Linked DNA regions of Homo sapiens. The protein of the gene in region 1 purifies or fractionates together with the protein of each later gene. This does not show direct contact. Each region holds a gene or a part of one and is shown on either strand. Other genes may lie near its edges.

The links. The genes of interacting proteins can lie anywhere in the genome.
Region 2: the proteins of DTD1 (region 1) and PLS1 purify together in Homo sapiens (affinity purification with mass spectrometry; one large-scale study listed by BioGRID and IntAct). This does not show direct contact.
Region 3: the proteins of DTD1 (region 1) and POLK purify together in Homo sapiens (affinity purification with mass spectrometry; one large-scale study listed by BioGRID and IntAct). This does not show direct contact.
Region 4: the proteins of DTD1 (region 1) and TOPBP1 purify together in Homo sapiens (affinity purification with western blotting; one study listed by BioGRID). This does not show direct contact.

What each region holds. Positions count from the first base shown.
Region 1 is NC_000020.11:18,594,154-18,598,080, reverse strand, and holds part of DTD1 (D-aminoacyl-tRNA deacylase 1), read right to left. Parts: intron 2,076-3,927; coding exon 1,840-2,075; intron 1-1,839. UniProt on the Homo sapiens protein: Possible ATPase involved in DNA replication, may facilitate loading of CDC45 onto pre-replication complexes. An aminoacyl-tRNA editing enzyme that deacylates mischarged D-aminoacyl-tRNAs.
Region 2 is NC_000003.12:142,602,750-142,606,676, forward strand, and holds part of PLS1 (plastin-1), read left to right. Parts: intron 1-3,927. UniProt on the Homo sapiens protein: Actin-bundling protein. In the inner ear, it is required for stereocilia formation. Mediates liquid packing of actin filaments that is necessary for stereocilia to grow to their proper dimensions.
Region 3 is NC_000005.10:75,518,248-75,522,174, forward strand, and holds part of POLK (DNA polymerase kappa), read left to right. Parts: intron 1-3,927. UniProt on the Homo sapiens protein: DNA polymerase specifically involved in DNA repair. Plays an important role in translesion synthesis, where the normal high-fidelity DNA polymerases cannot proceed and DNA synthesis stalls.
Region 4 is NC_000003.12:133,651,658-133,655,584, reverse strand, and holds part of TOPBP1 (DNA topoisomerase 2-binding protein 1), read left to right. Parts: intron 1-98; coding exon 99-295; intron 296-2,060; coding exon 2,061-2,240; intron 2,241-2,955; coding exon 2,956-3,122; intron 3,123-3,927. UniProt on the Homo sapiens protein: Scaffold protein that acts as a key protein-protein adapter in DNA replication and DNA repair. Composed of multiple BRCT domains, which specifically recognize and bind phosphorylated proteins, bringing proteins together into functional combinations.

The DNA of each region.
Region 1 (3,927 bases):
TATGGCACATGTATACCTATGTAACAAAACTGCACGTTCTGCACATGTACCCCAGAACTTAAAGTATACTAATAATTTTTTTACAAAAAAAGACAAAATGTTGGGAGAAAAGAACTGTCAAGCTAGGATTCCATGCCCAGCTAAGCAATCATAAAGAATTAAGGCAAAATAAAAACATTTTAAAACCTACAATGACTATGTTCCACTAACACATTCTTAGTAAACAACTGATATATCATAGAATGTACTTCAGAAAGAAGAGCCCAAAGAAGGAAGCAAGACAGGTTGGTGACCACAGAAATTGATAAAATATATTATCAAATACAGCCAGTTACAGATTATAAATAAATTATGATTAAAAGTGATTATGATTATGATGAAAAGAAAAGTGGCAACATGGATGAACCTTGAAAACATTATGCTAAGTGAAAGAAGCCAGGAACAAAACCACACATTATATAATTCCATTTACATAAAATGTTCAGAATAGACAAATCTAAAGAGACGGAAAGTAGATTAATGGCTGCCTAGGACTGGGGCAACAAAGAAGAGAGTGGGAGTAGGCTAGTACTGTTGATGAGTACAGGATTTCTTTTAAGTGGGACAAAAGTGTTATAAAATTAGATTGTGGCAATGGTTGCACAACTCTTAACTAAAAAAATTGACTTGTACACTTTAAATAGGTGAATTGTACAGTATGTGTATTATATCTTAATAAAGTCATTTTAAAAAGTGGAACTAGAAAGGAAAAGGGGATGTTCAAATATACTAAGATCCTTATAAATTTTGATAGAAATTTTTGTAACTATTCATGAATGTTAAAAACTTAGAAATAACCATTAGGAGAACAAAAACACCATCTATAGCTCCTTCTCTCTATACACACACACACACACACACACACACACACACACACACACACACACTTTCTCTCATCTACTAAAAGAGAGAGTCTATGAGACTAGGTCAAAAAAGCTTATTGAGAAGCCAGAACAGAAAAAGAAACAAAATCATAAAAATAAAATAAAAAATATTCTGTATGATACTGTAATGGTAGACACATGTCATTATAAATTTGCCCAAACCCAGAGAATATTAGAGTGAACCCTAGTGCCAACAGGAGACTGTGGGTGATAATGATGTGCCATGAACAACAGTTATAATCCAACAATGAACTTAGGTTCATCAGTTGTAACAAATGCACCACTCTAGTGGTGGATGTTGATAATGAGTGAGCCTATGCATGCGGGGGCAGAGATATATGGAATATCTCTGTACCATCCTCTCAATTTTACTGTGAACCTAAAACTGCTCTAATCAAATAAAGCCTTTATTTAGAAAAAAAAAAAAGAGAATGTAAACTACCTCATCATTGTTTATAACGACTACATAGTAAAATCATATTTTGAATATATTCAGTTAAATAAAATATATTTTTTAAATTAATTTCACCTATTTCTTTTTATTTTTTTAAATATGGCTACAAGAACTTAAAATGACATATTTGGCTCACATTTGAGGCTTGCACTATACTTCTATTGGACAGGGCTAAGCTAAACAATCAAAGAAATACCACTGTATTAGCCACACCTCTGGGTTCCCAAACATTTTCAAAATGTGAACAGAAGAAGGGAGGAGGGCAAATGCCAGCAGAAGCATTCTGAGGACATGTGTTAAGTACAACAGCAGCAATAGCAGCAGCTAGTATGTGGTTCTAAGTAAGTAACAAGCATAAACAATGACTTTCCAGAAAAGGAGATGCTGCAGTTGCAGCTTCTTTTTTCTCTCCATCCAGGAGTGTCCCAAAGACCCGTTCCTGGATGTGGCTCTCCTGCTTACCTTTGATAAGCTCCGGCCTGTATGTTTTACGCAGCTGCTCCAGGAAGCTGTTGTAGAAGCCCTCTGCCTGCTCCGTGGGCATTGCTAGGTGGAAATCAGGCTTGTTTCCCTTCAGGACACACTGGAGGGTAAACTGGCTGACACACAGAATCTCGTACTGTTTGTCCATCACACTCTTCGACCAGTGCTTCCCACTCTCATCCTCAAATACACGCAGGTTTAGAATCTTTCGGACCCTAAGGGGAAAAAGAGCAGTGAGAGCTACCTGAGAGATCACAAGCCCCCCAACACACTCCATACCCCAAAAATGTCACCAGCTTCCGGTCAAATAAGGACATAATGATGACTCCATCCCTGACAGGAGGCATGACCTCAGGCAAGTCACTTATCCACCCTGTGCTTCAGTGTCCTCAGCTGCGATACAGAATAATAACAGTTCTACCTCACACGGTTGTTTTGAGATTGCTTCTTTTTTGCCAGTCGCTCCAGTTCATAGCAGCTACTGGTGAGAACTGGGGCTAAGATGACAACCACCTATTCTCTGCTCCTTTAGGTCGGGGATATGTCAAAACATGGGTCCAATTGTAATTTTTCATGAACGAATTCATCATGTTAGGATAAATGACATCCATTTTTAAACCCCTTCTTGGAGCTACTCAAAATGAACAATTCGGCTGAGAACGGTGGCTCATGCCTGAAATCCCAGTACTTTGGGAGGCCACAGTGGGTGGATCACCTGAGTTCAGGAGTTCAAGACCAGCCTAGCCAACATAGAGAAACCCCATCTCTACTACTAAAACTACAAAAGTTAGCCAGGCATGGTGGCGGGCGCCTTTAATCCCAGCTACTCAGGAGGCTTAGGCACAAAAATCGCTTGAACCAGGGAGGCAGAGATTGCAGTAAGCTAAGATTGCACCACTGCACTCCAGCCTGGGTGACAGAGGGAGACTCTGTCTCAAAAGAAAAAAAAAAGAAAGAACAATTCAGCAAATACACTGAGAGAAAAATCATGGTTATTGCAAATATGCAAAAAGATCTGGAGAAAGACACCTTGAAAACTATGTCACAAGCTCCTTAAGCCCCAGAGGGGCTTTCCCTATACATGTGAAGAAGGATAGTCACCATGGCAAGAAAGTTGACCAGGTGACATCTATAGGGTCAGATTTGAGAAGCACAGCAGAGAACCACCAGCATGAAAGCTGAAATCTCACCATTTGAGAGCCACCCTTCTGGATGATGTTAAGTAGATGACAGTTTCAAAGACTCTATAAATACTAATTAACTGACTCTTAATATGGGCACCCTCAGGGACAGGTGCTACTCATTACCCCCTCTCCACAGCCAAGATTTGTCTTATGTTGAATCACATCTCTTAAGCACCAGGCTAAGTATTAGCTCTGTAGTATGTCAGAGCCATAAAGACATTCAAACCCACAGCCTCAGTTTTTAGCCATTACACCACTCTACCACTTCTTTGAGTATCCAGAGGACAGCTACTAAAATACCACCATCACTGAAATAGTATTGAATGATAGTTATCCATCATCAACACCTTAGCAGGAATTCAGTTTCAAGTCTGATTTTCAATCTAACACAAAAGAATCAGTTGGGCAGGGTTATACCCAAGCTCTGAGCACCAAGGGGCAGAATAAATGGATCCAGCATCTAAAGTAAATGTGCCCCGTGGTAATGGAGGGGAGGAGGTGCACAGAGGGCACATTCTGATTTTATGTCTGGAATGAATGGGAGCTATAAAGTGAACAATCATTAAGCAGGATTTTAGGGCCATATTTCATCTGTGCTGCCTTGGCTAAGACACCTAAACCTTTCTATAGTCGAGTTTGCCCATCTATAAACTCAGAGAGCCAGGCAGGCAGCAGCAATGGCAACCCCTGCTCCTCAACCCCCGCCACCACCTTAGTAAAAAGATCACTGGCTTCAAGGTCAGGGAGCCCAGACTCTAACTGGGGTTCAGGCTTTTTGCTAAGTGTGTGTGCATGATCTGGGGCAAGCAATTTAACCTCTCTGAGTTCTAGATCCCTATGTGCACAGCGAGCTAGTAGACATTCTAAAAATACATAGTGCCCA
Region 2 (3,927 bases), on another chromosome or scaffold:
GAGCTCTCTTTCCATTTCCTGGTTCTGCTTTACCTTCCCCTGAGTGGTTCTGTGTTCCCAGGATATGAAAGGCAGGGCCGCAGCTTCTGGCTTCACCGGGCTAATTTTTGTATTTTTAGTAGAGTCGGGGTTTCACCATGTTGGCCAGGCTGGTCGCCAACTCCTGACCTCAAGTGACTCGCCCGCCTCAGCCTCCCAAAGTGTTGAGGCTGAGGCCACCTCTGGCCCTCATTCTCTCAACATTCAAAAGCTTGTCACTTCATCCAGTTCCGAATTAACATTTTACTCTGGCTGATGATGAACGTCGGGGAGAAAGAGACATTTGTGCTGCATACGGGTTTATTGGTTATAAAATGGTTATACAATTTTGATTGCTGGAAACTTTGCTGACATGTAAGGTCACATGAGATGTGAGGCTGTTCAACTTTGATCATCTGATTTCTTTTTAGCACTGTGTCTGAAAGTGCCTATGTGCCGTTTTTGGTGAGACATATGTAGCATGGCTTCTGTAAAGGCACGTTGCTTTTTATTATAGTAATATTGTGGGCACAGAAAGGGTGAGGAGTTAGATGATTGGGAGAGTTTTTTCTTACTTAAAACACTTGTTTCATCAGAAAATATTTCCTAGCAGAGTTAGACATAGCTTTGTTCATAAAGTCCAGTGGTGAAGGGACTTCAGACTTTACGATAAACTAAATTTTATGATTGACTTTTGTGAGCAATTCACAGCTATAAAACTACGAGACTGGCTGGGCATGGTGGCTCACGCCTATAATCCCAGCACTTTGGGAGGCTGAGGCAGGTGGATCGCTTGAGCTCAAGAGTTCAACACCAGCCTGGGCAACATGGCAAAACATCGTCTCTACAAAAAAATTATCTGGGCATGGTGGCGCGTGCCTGTAGTCCCAGTTACTTAGGCTGAGGTGGGAGGATCATTTTGAGCCCAGGAGATTGAGGCTGCAGTGACCTGAGATTGTGCCACTGCACTTTAGCCTGGGTGACAAAGTGAAACCCTGCCTCAAAAAAAAAAAAAAATACCTACAAGAACATCTGGGTGATAACTCACTGCACACAGACATGCCTCCTTCAAAAGATCCAAGCTGACCACAAAAAAAAAGGAGAAACTGTCTTTTCTTGATAGTAAATTGGATGGAGACATTAGTAAGGTAGAAGGTGTCTGAGGGGCTTCTTCATGATAAAAAGCAAAAGGTTTTGGGGTGTCACTGACCCAAAATATTAGCAGAAATCAGATTTACTCTATTATTGAGGAACACAATACATTAAATTGTTTATAGATCCAGTTTCAAGAAAGAAGATGTTTATATTAAAAAAATGACAAAAGCTCCTTCAATTTTTTTGAGAACTAAGAAATAAGAGATTTTAGCAGTACTGCCAAAATAGAATTTGGATTTGAATTTAAGACACTGGTAAATGTGTGTGGAAGGATCGGTCTTGTTAATTACACCTTGGACCAAGGGCTGCTTGGAATGAATAAAAGAGGGGGAAAGGTTTAGACAAGTAGAATCTCTAGGTTGATATCAAGTTAGTATTTATAATCTTTGTAAATAAACCAAAACCTCTCAAAGACTCCTGCTGTCTCTTCCTGGAGAGCACTCTGAATTCTTTCCTGGCGGTCTCCCTTTTCCTTCCCCTCTCCCCAGGTTTAAGATCATTGGGACATCCTTTTGGTCAAGGAAATGTTTCTAAGAGTGACCTAGTTATTGGAATTTTAAGTGTTAATCAGGTCAGTGAGGTGCCATCTGTGAAACACAGCTCACCAAAACCCAATGTTTTTCATCAGAAGTTGTCATGGAAGTGAGTTGATTTTGGAAAAACAACAATAATAGCAATTTGCTTGATCCCTTTCTTATCCTCAAATAGCCAAATTAAATTCAAGATTATTGGCCAGGTGCAGTGGCTCACGCCTGTAATCCCAGCACTTTGGGAGGCCGAGGCAGGCGGATCACGAGGTCAGGATATTGAGACCATCCTGGCTAACATGGTGAAACCCCGTCTCTACTAAAAAATACAAATAATTAGCCAGGCGTGGTGGTGGGTGCCTGTAGTCCCAGCTACTCAGGAGACTGAGGCAGGAGAATGGCGTGAACCCGGGAGGCAGAGCTTGCAGTGAGCTGAGATCACGGCACTGCATCTCCAGCCTGGGCAGCAGAGCAAGACTCCGTCTCAAAAAAAAAAAAAAATTCAAGATTATTATCAGTGGAAAAAGGAAATCTGAAAATCTCTGAATGTTTAGTGGTCAATTAAAATGAGTCTTAGGGCAATTTAAAGTTTAGATACCTGAAACCAGTTGGCCTATGATCAGAACCATGGATGAGAAGTCAAAGTCTGTGATTCTGTTTCTGACCCCATGAGAAGGAAGGCCTTCTCTTCAGCTGTAGGTTTGATAATTAAACAAGATAGTGGATGTGAAAGTAACTAGTCAACTACAAGATAGAGGAAAGGCATTTATTGATGTTTAAAAAAGCTTTCTGATTTTACTTCCTTTCACTGATAAGTGGCCAAGACTTAGAGAATGACTTGCCTGCTGGAGGTTGCCTGATTTGAAACTGCCAGAAATTAAACTCATAACTGTGTCTTATAATTTCAACATTTGAAAAAATGTCAGGGTTAATTTTTTTGAGACAGAGTCTTGCTCCGTTGCTCAGGCTGGAGTGAGGGGCACAATCTTGGCTCACTGCAACCTTTCGCCTCCCGGGTTCAAGTGATTCTCCTGCTTCATCCTCCCCAGTAGCTGGGGTTACAGGCATGTGCCACCATGCCCAGCTAATTTTTGTATTTCTAGTAGAGACATGGTTTCTCCATGTTGTCCAGGCTGATCTCGAACTCCTGACCTCATGGGACTTCAGTCTAGCTCCAAATCTAGTGCTCTTGCAGTCAATTCATATTTTCTTCTGTTACTGACCATATGAAATAATTCCTCTATGAAATTTATGTGCAATTTTTATAAAAGTCTAAATGTATTTTATGGCTAACCCTCAACTATGGAGCATATTAACATTAAAATGAGTTCTTGAAATAAGAGTTGATTAACATGGGAAAATATCCATCTCTTTCATCTTGAACAAAGTAGTTTTGTTTTAAAACTTATACTTCCTGCTAATGTACATCTGGAATGTGTAGGATAAAAGATTAAACTTTCTAAATATTTTACAAAGTTATATTCTCCCTATGTGATATATATTGTTCTGTGGGAGACTAAGCCTTAATTGAAGTATTTCTGCAAGGTTACTATAAGCATTTCTCATACCACTAGGACAATAAATAATGGGAGAACCCAAAACATTGTAATTTTCTAGTAATTCAGAGGAAATAACTGAATCCTGAAACATTGTACAAAAGGGTACACAATGATACCCATTTTTGCATGTTAATGTATTATTAAATATCAGTGGGAATAGTCTGCATGCTATTTCACATCTCAGGCACACTTAAGGAAGACCTTGTGATGTGCATGTTGCTCATTTAATCTAGAAAGGATACCAAGATTCATTTAGAACTTCTTTATGCACAGTTTTTTTTTGAGTATGTTATGTCCTGAGGCATTAAGGGTATTACTAAAGCAAGCAGCGGGACTTCTCAGAGAAATTAAAGGTTTCATATCAACCACACGTTGTCAAAATCTTCACTTTGAATAGGATTAAATGATGTTTCATCAGTATTCTTGGCACACATGACATTGTTTTTAAAATAACAGTTTTATTACTCTTGGCTGTGACAGTTTCTCAGACTTTCCTTAATATCATACAATTCTCCAATTTAAACTGTATAGTCAGTTTTACAATATTTTAATTACCCTGTATTCATTAGCACTTTCCTCATTTTCTACTACCTCCTCCCCAGCTGCCCCTACCCTAGGCAATGCCAAATCTACTTTCTGTCTATATATTTGCCTATTCTTGAAATTTC
Region 3 (3,927 bases), on another chromosome or scaffold:
CAGTGAAGCCATCAGGTTCCAGGCTTTTCTTTGATGAAAGACTTTTTATTGCAGCTTCCATCTTATTACTTACTGGTCTGTTCAGGTTTTCAGTTTATTCATGTTTCAATCTTGGTAGGTTGTAAGTGTCCAGGAATTTATTAATTTCTTCTAGCTATTCCAATTTGTTGGCGTATAGTTGCTCATAATAGTATATAATGATTCTTTGTATTTCTGTGGTCTCAGTTGGTATGTCTACTTTTTCATTTCTGTTTTTATTTATTTGAATTTTCTTTCTTTTATTTGTCTAAAGTTTTGTCAATTTCATCTATCTTTTTGAAAAAACAACTTTTGTTGACCTGTATTTTTTTAGTCTCAATTTTATTTACTGCTGTTCTTATCTTCATTATTTATTTTCTTCTACTAATGTTGGGTTTGGATTGTTCCTGCTTTTCTAGTTTTTGAGATGCATTGTTAGGTTATTTATTTGAAATCTTTCTCCTTTTTTGATGTAGACAATTATTATTGTAAACTTCTCTCTTGGTACTGCTACTTTTGCTTTATCCCATAGATTTTGGTATTTTGTGTTTCCATTGTCATTTGATTCAGAATATTTTTAAATTCCCTTCTTAAATAGAGACAGCGTCTCACTTTGTCACCTAGGTTGGAGTGCAGTGGTGTGATCATGACCCACTGCATCCTCAATCTCCTTGGTTCAGGTGATGCTCCTGCCTCAGCCTCCTGAGTAGCTAGGACAATAGGCATAACACCACCAAGCCCAGCCAGCCCAGGTATTGTTGTGCTGCCCAGGCTGGCCTCAAACTCTTGGCTTCAAACAGTCCTTCCACCTTGACCTCTCAAAGTGCTGGGATGATAGGCATGAGCCACCATGCCCTGCCAGGAACAAGTCATTTGATTTGAACTTACTCCAAATTAAATCAAACAATTAATTAATTTTTTGTATTGTTTCCCAGGTTCCTCTTGTTAATGATTTCAAGTTTTATTCCATTGTGGTTACAAAAGATATGTGATATGATTTCTACTTAATTGACTTTTTGAGACTTGTTTTGTGGCCTAAGATGTGGTCTGTTCTGGAGAATGTTTCATATGCTGATGAAAAGATTGTCTGTTCTGCAGCAGTTGGGTGAAATATTCTATAATGTCAATTAGGCCTATTTGGTCTAGTTTAACTCCCCTGTTTCTTTGTTGATTTTCTGTCTGTATGATTTGTCCTTTCCTGAGAGTAGGGTGTTGAAGTCTCCTACTATTATTATATTGCACTCTATCTCTCCCTTTATGTCTATCAATATTTGCTTTATAGACTTGGGTATTCTGGTATTGGATGCTTAGATATTAATTGTTATATCCTTTTGCTGAATTGACCTGTTTATCATAATATAGTGACCTTCTTGCTCACTTTTTGGAGTCTTTGACTTATAGTCGTATTTTATCTGATATGTTAGCTACTCCTGCTCTTTTCTGGTTTCCCCTTGCATGGAATACCTTTTTCCAGCCCTTCACTTAGAGTGTTATGTGTGTCTGTGTAGGTGAAGTGGATTTCTTGTGGGAATTGTATGGTTTGGTCTTGTTTCTTTATCCAGTCATCTACTCTGTGTCTTCTAATTGGAGACTTGAGTTCATTTACATTCAGTGTTATTATTGGTAAGTAAGAACTTATTATTGCCATTTTATTGCATGTTTTGTGGTTGTTTTGTACTCCTCTCTTTTCCTTTCTGTGTTCTTTTGTGGTTAAGTGATTTTCTCTGATAGTATGTTTTAATTAATTGCTGTTTATTTTTAGTGTATCTATTATAGGTTTTTGCACTGTGGTTACCGTGAGGTTTATTAAAAAGTTTTAGAGCTATGACAAGTTATTTTAAAACAATGACAACTTATCTTAGATAGCAAAGAAAAAAATAGAAACTAACAAAGAAATTTAAAAACTTCTACACTTTAACTCTATCACCCCTAAAATTTTGACTTTTTATTGTCTCAACTTACATATTTTTATATTGCCTGTCTCTTAACAGGTTGCTGTAGCTACGATTGTTTTTAACAAGTTTGTCTTTTAGACTTCATACTAGAATTATGGGAGGACCAAAAACAATTATAGTATTAGAGCATCCTGGGTTTATCTATGTACTTACCTTTACCAGAGGATTTTATTTATTTTATTTTTGTTTTCAGAGACAGGGTCTTGCCTTGTCACCGAGGTTGGAGTGCAGTGGCATAATCATAGCTCACTGTAGTCTCGAACTCCTGGGCTCAAATGATTCTCCCACCTTAGCCTCCCAAGTATCTGGGACTACAGGCATTTGCCACCATGCTCAGGTAATTAGAAAAAAAATTTTTTTTAGAGATAAGGTCTTATGATGTTGCCCAGGATAGTCTTAAACTCCTGGCCTCAGGCAGTCCTCCTGACTTAGCTTTCCAAGTAGCTAGTATTACAGGCATGAACCACAGTGCCTGTAATAGACTAGCAATGAGTTTTATACCTTTAAATGTTTTCTTTTTGCACATTTTTTTTCTCTGAGATTGAAGAACTCCCTTTAGTGTTTCTTGTAAAATGAGTCTGGTGATGGTGAATTTTCTCAGTGCTTGTTTGTCTGGGAAAGACTTTATCTTTCCTTTTTTGTAGTTGAAGGATGGGTTTGCTGAATATAATATTCTTCAATGGCAGTTGTTTCTTTCAGCACTTTGAAAATGTCATCCCACTCTCTCCTGGCTTATTTGGTTCCCATTGTGGAGTCTGTTGCCAAACAAATTGAAGCTCCTTTATATGTTATTTGCTTTTTTTTAACTTGCTACTGTTAAGAGCCTCTCTTTGTCCTTGACATTTGAGAGTTTGATTATTATATGCCTTGGGGTAGTTTTATTTAGGTCAAATCTGTTCGTGTTCTCTGGCCTGAATATTGATATTTTTCTTAGATTTTGGGAAGCTTTATTTTTTTGAATAAACTTTCTACTCCTGCTCTTGCTCAGCTCCTTGAATACCAGTAATTCTTAGATTTAGTCTTTTGAGGTGATTTTCTATATCTTCTAGGCAATCTTCATTCCTTTTTATTATTTTTTTTCCTCATCTATGTGTTTTAAAATAGCCTGCCTTCTAGCTTACTGATTGTTTTTTTCTGCTTGATCCACTATGTTGTTGAGAGCCTCTAATGAATTTTTTAGTTCAGCAAACGTATTTCTCAGTTCCACCAAGATTTGTTTGATTTTTTATTGTTTCAAACTCTGTTAATTTTCTCTGATACATTTCTAGATTGATTTTTTGTGTTATTTGGGATGTCACTGAGTTTCCATAAAATCACTATTTTGTATTCATGGTCCAAGAGCTCACATATCACTCTCTCGTTAGGGTTAGTCACTGGTTCCTTGCTTTGTCCATTTGAGGAGATAATGGTTTGCTGTTGTTTCTTTTGGATGTACATCTATGTCTTTGCATTGAAACATTATTTATTTATTTTAGTCTTCTCTGACTAGTTTGGTTTTTATTGGACATGTTTGCTTAGAGATTCTTTGTAACTTACCTGTTGAATTTCTTTTTTTTTTTCTGCTAGGTCACTCTGCCTCTTTTTTGGCACTAGATGGAGGCTTAATTCCAGCTTTGCCTCTGCCCTAGTAAAGGATCAGAGTGTTGCCTGTTAGGAATTGGGGAGGTCCCAAAGGTGATATCTCAGCAGTGTAGAAAGGCTGGCTAGGGGTTTGTGCCCAGGGGACCTGTGGAACGTACCTCCTACCTAGTGGTCCTGCCGAACAAGTACTCTGATTTGGTGTCTCCTTTGACTAAGTTAAAGAGCAGAGTTTCCAAGACTGGGAATGGTAGTCCTGCCTTCCCCATCTGTCTCTGAGTGTCCTCAGGGCTGTTTCTCCCTTTGTGTACTCATGATGCTTCCCATGGATTGGGTCAGGGACAGGTCTTCTGTCAGGACCCCAAGATGGTGGGGG
Region 4 (3,927 bases), on another chromosome or scaffold:
CCTAAAAAATGAGGGAAGCAATAGTGATATTTGTGTTGTTTTTCATTATTCTTCTGGTAAATTTAATATGTTCTTTTTTAACCATTTGATTCCCACAGAAAAATAACTAGATATACTGATATAAACATGGAAGATTTCAAGTGTCCTATTTTTCTTGGTTGCATAATCTGTGTGACTGGCTTATGTGGCTTAGACAGGAAAGAAGTTCAGCAACTCACAGTTAAGCATGGAGGTCAATACATGGGACAATTGAAAATGAATGAATGTACACACCTCATTGTGCAAGAACCAAAAGGTAAAACTGTGTTTCACAAAGGGACAAATGAAACATTTTCTCTAGTATTTAATATTTTATTTTTATTTATTTATTTATTTATTTTGAGACAGAGTCTTGCTCTATTGCCCAGGCTGGAGGGCAGTGGCACAATCTCAGCTCACTGCAACCTCTGCCTCCCTTGATCAAGCGATTCTCCCAACTCAGCTTCCCGAGTAGCGGGATTACAGGCACCTGCCACCACGCCTGAATAACTTTTTATTTTTAGTAGAGACGGGCTTTCACCATGTTGGCCAGACTGGTCTCTAACTGACCTCAATTGATCTTCCCACCTCAACCTCCCAAAGTCCTGGGATTACAGGCATGAGCCACCGTGCCCAGCCACTAATATTTAATATTTTAAAATCTTTACAGAACAGCTTTTACTTCTGACATGTCATTAATCTAGTTTGATACTGTTTTCTCTAACATCTTGCAAAGATGTTTTCTCTAACATCTTGCAAAGTTTTAACTGGAAGACACACCTTGCGGCACATGAGGCAGTAAAAAATGAAAAAGACATTACGAACAAGAAAAATTCTTTAAAATTGCTATTAAGTTTGGTGTTACATAACATTATTCTGGATAATTTTTTATCAGCACTCTTAAAATATACACAAATTGATAAAAGATGAGTTTTGTTAATGTTTTTATTATTGCCCTTTATATGTATACTGTGTTTTACTAAGCTATCTAGATTGAGAAGAAATTACGATTAAATGGTAATTGTCCTTAAGTCAGAACTTTGAGTATGGCTGATTGTGATAGGATCACTGTGAGTAGAGTTGATACTGCTGTTCTTTTTCTGAATCTGAAGACAGTTCATTGTTGATTCTCTCAAGAATGCCAAAAAACCTTTCATGTGACATATTGACCTCAATTCCTCTGTGATACTGCTTCAAAATACATTGTGTTGAAGATTTTTAAGGTAATAAAAGATACATATTTTCAATATAATTTATCTTTTGGCTTATCTATCCTGGACTTTAAGTAGAAGCCTGTTGACATTGGAATAGTCTGTTCAAAGTTGGGATTTATTATATAGCACAAATTTACAATTTTCACATTGTACAAGCTGGTTTAAAGAAATTAAGTGATGGAGCCTATATGCAAACCCAAGTCCAATATTAATTAAGTTACCCCACAGTTGCTTCTGTCTTCCTGCAGTTTGTATAAAAGATAAAACCTCTCACATGGCATATGTATTTATACTACACATAGAAAATATAATTAGGCAATAAGCTAAAATACTACTTTGTAATAAACTGTGTAGCATACTGTTTAAGAGTAAGTACTGGTAACTTTAATTTTGTTGATAGGTTTTTGAAATAACCTGTTATAGCCGGGCGCGGTTGCTCACGCTTGTAATCCCAGCATTTTGGGAGGCCAAGGCAGGCGAATCACCTGAGGTCAGGAGTTTGAGACCAGCCTAGCCAACATGGTGAAACCCCGTGTCTACTAAAAATACAAAAAAATTAGCCAGACATGGTGGCACACGTCTGTAATCCTAGCTATTCAGGAGGCTGAGGCAGGAGAATCGCTTGATCAGGAGGGAGGTGGAGGTTGCAGTGAGCCAAGATCTCACCACTGTACTCCAGCCTGGGCAACAGAGTGAGACTCCATCTCAAAAAAAAAAAAAAAATATTAACCTGTTATAATTTGAATATTTCTGCAAAGATAGATTGTAATGGTTTTCATTTCTTGGTTTCTCCTATTTTCTCTATTTCTTTCTTAATGAACGCCACAGGTCAGAAGTATGAGTGTGCCAAGAGATGGAATGTACACTGTGTGACCACACAGTGGTTTTTTGACAGTATTGAGAAAGGTTTTTGTCAGGATGAATCCATATACAAGACAGAACCTAGACCAGAAGCAAAGACTATGCCCAATTCTTCAACTCCTACCAGCCAGATCAACACAATTGATAGTGAGTCTCATTGAGATTAAAATAATTATTCTGAAGACAGTCATATTTCTATGTAATAATCAGTATGTTAATAGGATCACTGAGATAGGGAATTTCTTTTTCTTGTTTGCTGTGCTTCTAGGCATAATTGTATAATAGTCAAATTGTATAAAAAGTTAGCACTGAACTGTTCGTAATTTTCTTTTAGAATGAATGAATGCTGTCTTTTATACTCTGTTGTAATGCAAAAGATGATCAAAGAAATTAAGAACAATGGTAGCTGGGGGCTTAAGATAAAAGTATTAATCTTTTAAACATTACATGCATATATTAATCTTTCCTTAATTTACAGTTTTGCTGCAGTTATAGATCATCTGTATTTGTATAAAAATTAAAACCATTTCTATTTTGTAGGTGTCGTGTTGGCAAAATGTTTAAAATATTTTTTCAAATGTAAGCTTCTTGGACCTTAAAGTCAGCAACTTCAGATTTTTATGGGAAACAAGACACTATTAAGAAAATGTGTTAAATCTATTTTCATTTAAATAAGATAGGAGGCTTAATTAATTTCATTTTCCCTTTTTATACTTTGCCACTAAGATTTCAGTAAACACCCCTGAATCTTACTTTGGAAGTTGTTTATTGCCCTATATTTGTAAGAAAAGTTAATCCATAGACAATATGTAATCATGATTATTTTATCTCCCATAAATTTATACGTTTTCAAAATATGTAGGTCGTACTCTTTCAGATGTCAGCAATATTTCCAACATAAATGCAAGTTGCGTAAGTGAATCAATATGTAATTCACTTAACAGCAAACTGGAGCCTACACTTGAAAATCTAGAAAATCTGGATGTCAGTGCATTTCAAGCACCTGAAGATTTATTAGATGGTTGTCGGGTACGTCTTTATTATATAATACATGCAGTAGATGATATACATTAGCATTTCCTAGCCTGACTTTGAAGACCCTTCAGAGTTGGGCTTGCTCCTTACTATCTATGTAAACCCTCCACTCTAGCTAAGTAGATGCACTTACTAGACCATGTCCATCCTTTGGCTGCGAGAGTCCCTCTGCCTGCAAGGTATCTTCCTCTGTTATCTTTTAAAAGTTCATTTCAGGTTTTAACTCTTCTCTGAACCCTCCTAACTACATTAATCTTTTCATCTGCTATATTTCGAGAGCACTTAGTTTCTGAACAACTTATTGGATTTTTTTTTTTTAATTTTTTTGAGTTAGGGTCTCACTCTGTTGCCCAGGCTGGGATGCAGTGGCACAATCATAACTTCCTGTAACCTTGAACTCCTGGGCATCAGCCACCCCTCAGTCTCCCGAGCAGTTAGAACTACAGGCATGTGCCACTACACCTGGCTAATTTTTAAAATTTTTTTGTAGAGACAAGGTCTCACTATGTTGCCCAGGTTTGGACTTTAAACTATCATCCAAGTGTTTACAGTGTATTAGACACTGTGCTAATCATTTTATGTGTGTTAATATATATATAAAATCGCATTTAAGTCCCACAAATAACTCTAAAATGGATATTATCTTGAGGGTAAGACTTAGAGAATTAAAATTCTTGTTCAGAGTCACACAGAGAGACATTAAGTGGCCAGTTATCTACTCCAAAGTCTGTATTCCTCACCATTAGAGCCACTGCTTTGTTTGGTATTTCTTGGGTTATTTAGTTTTTTAGTATATGAA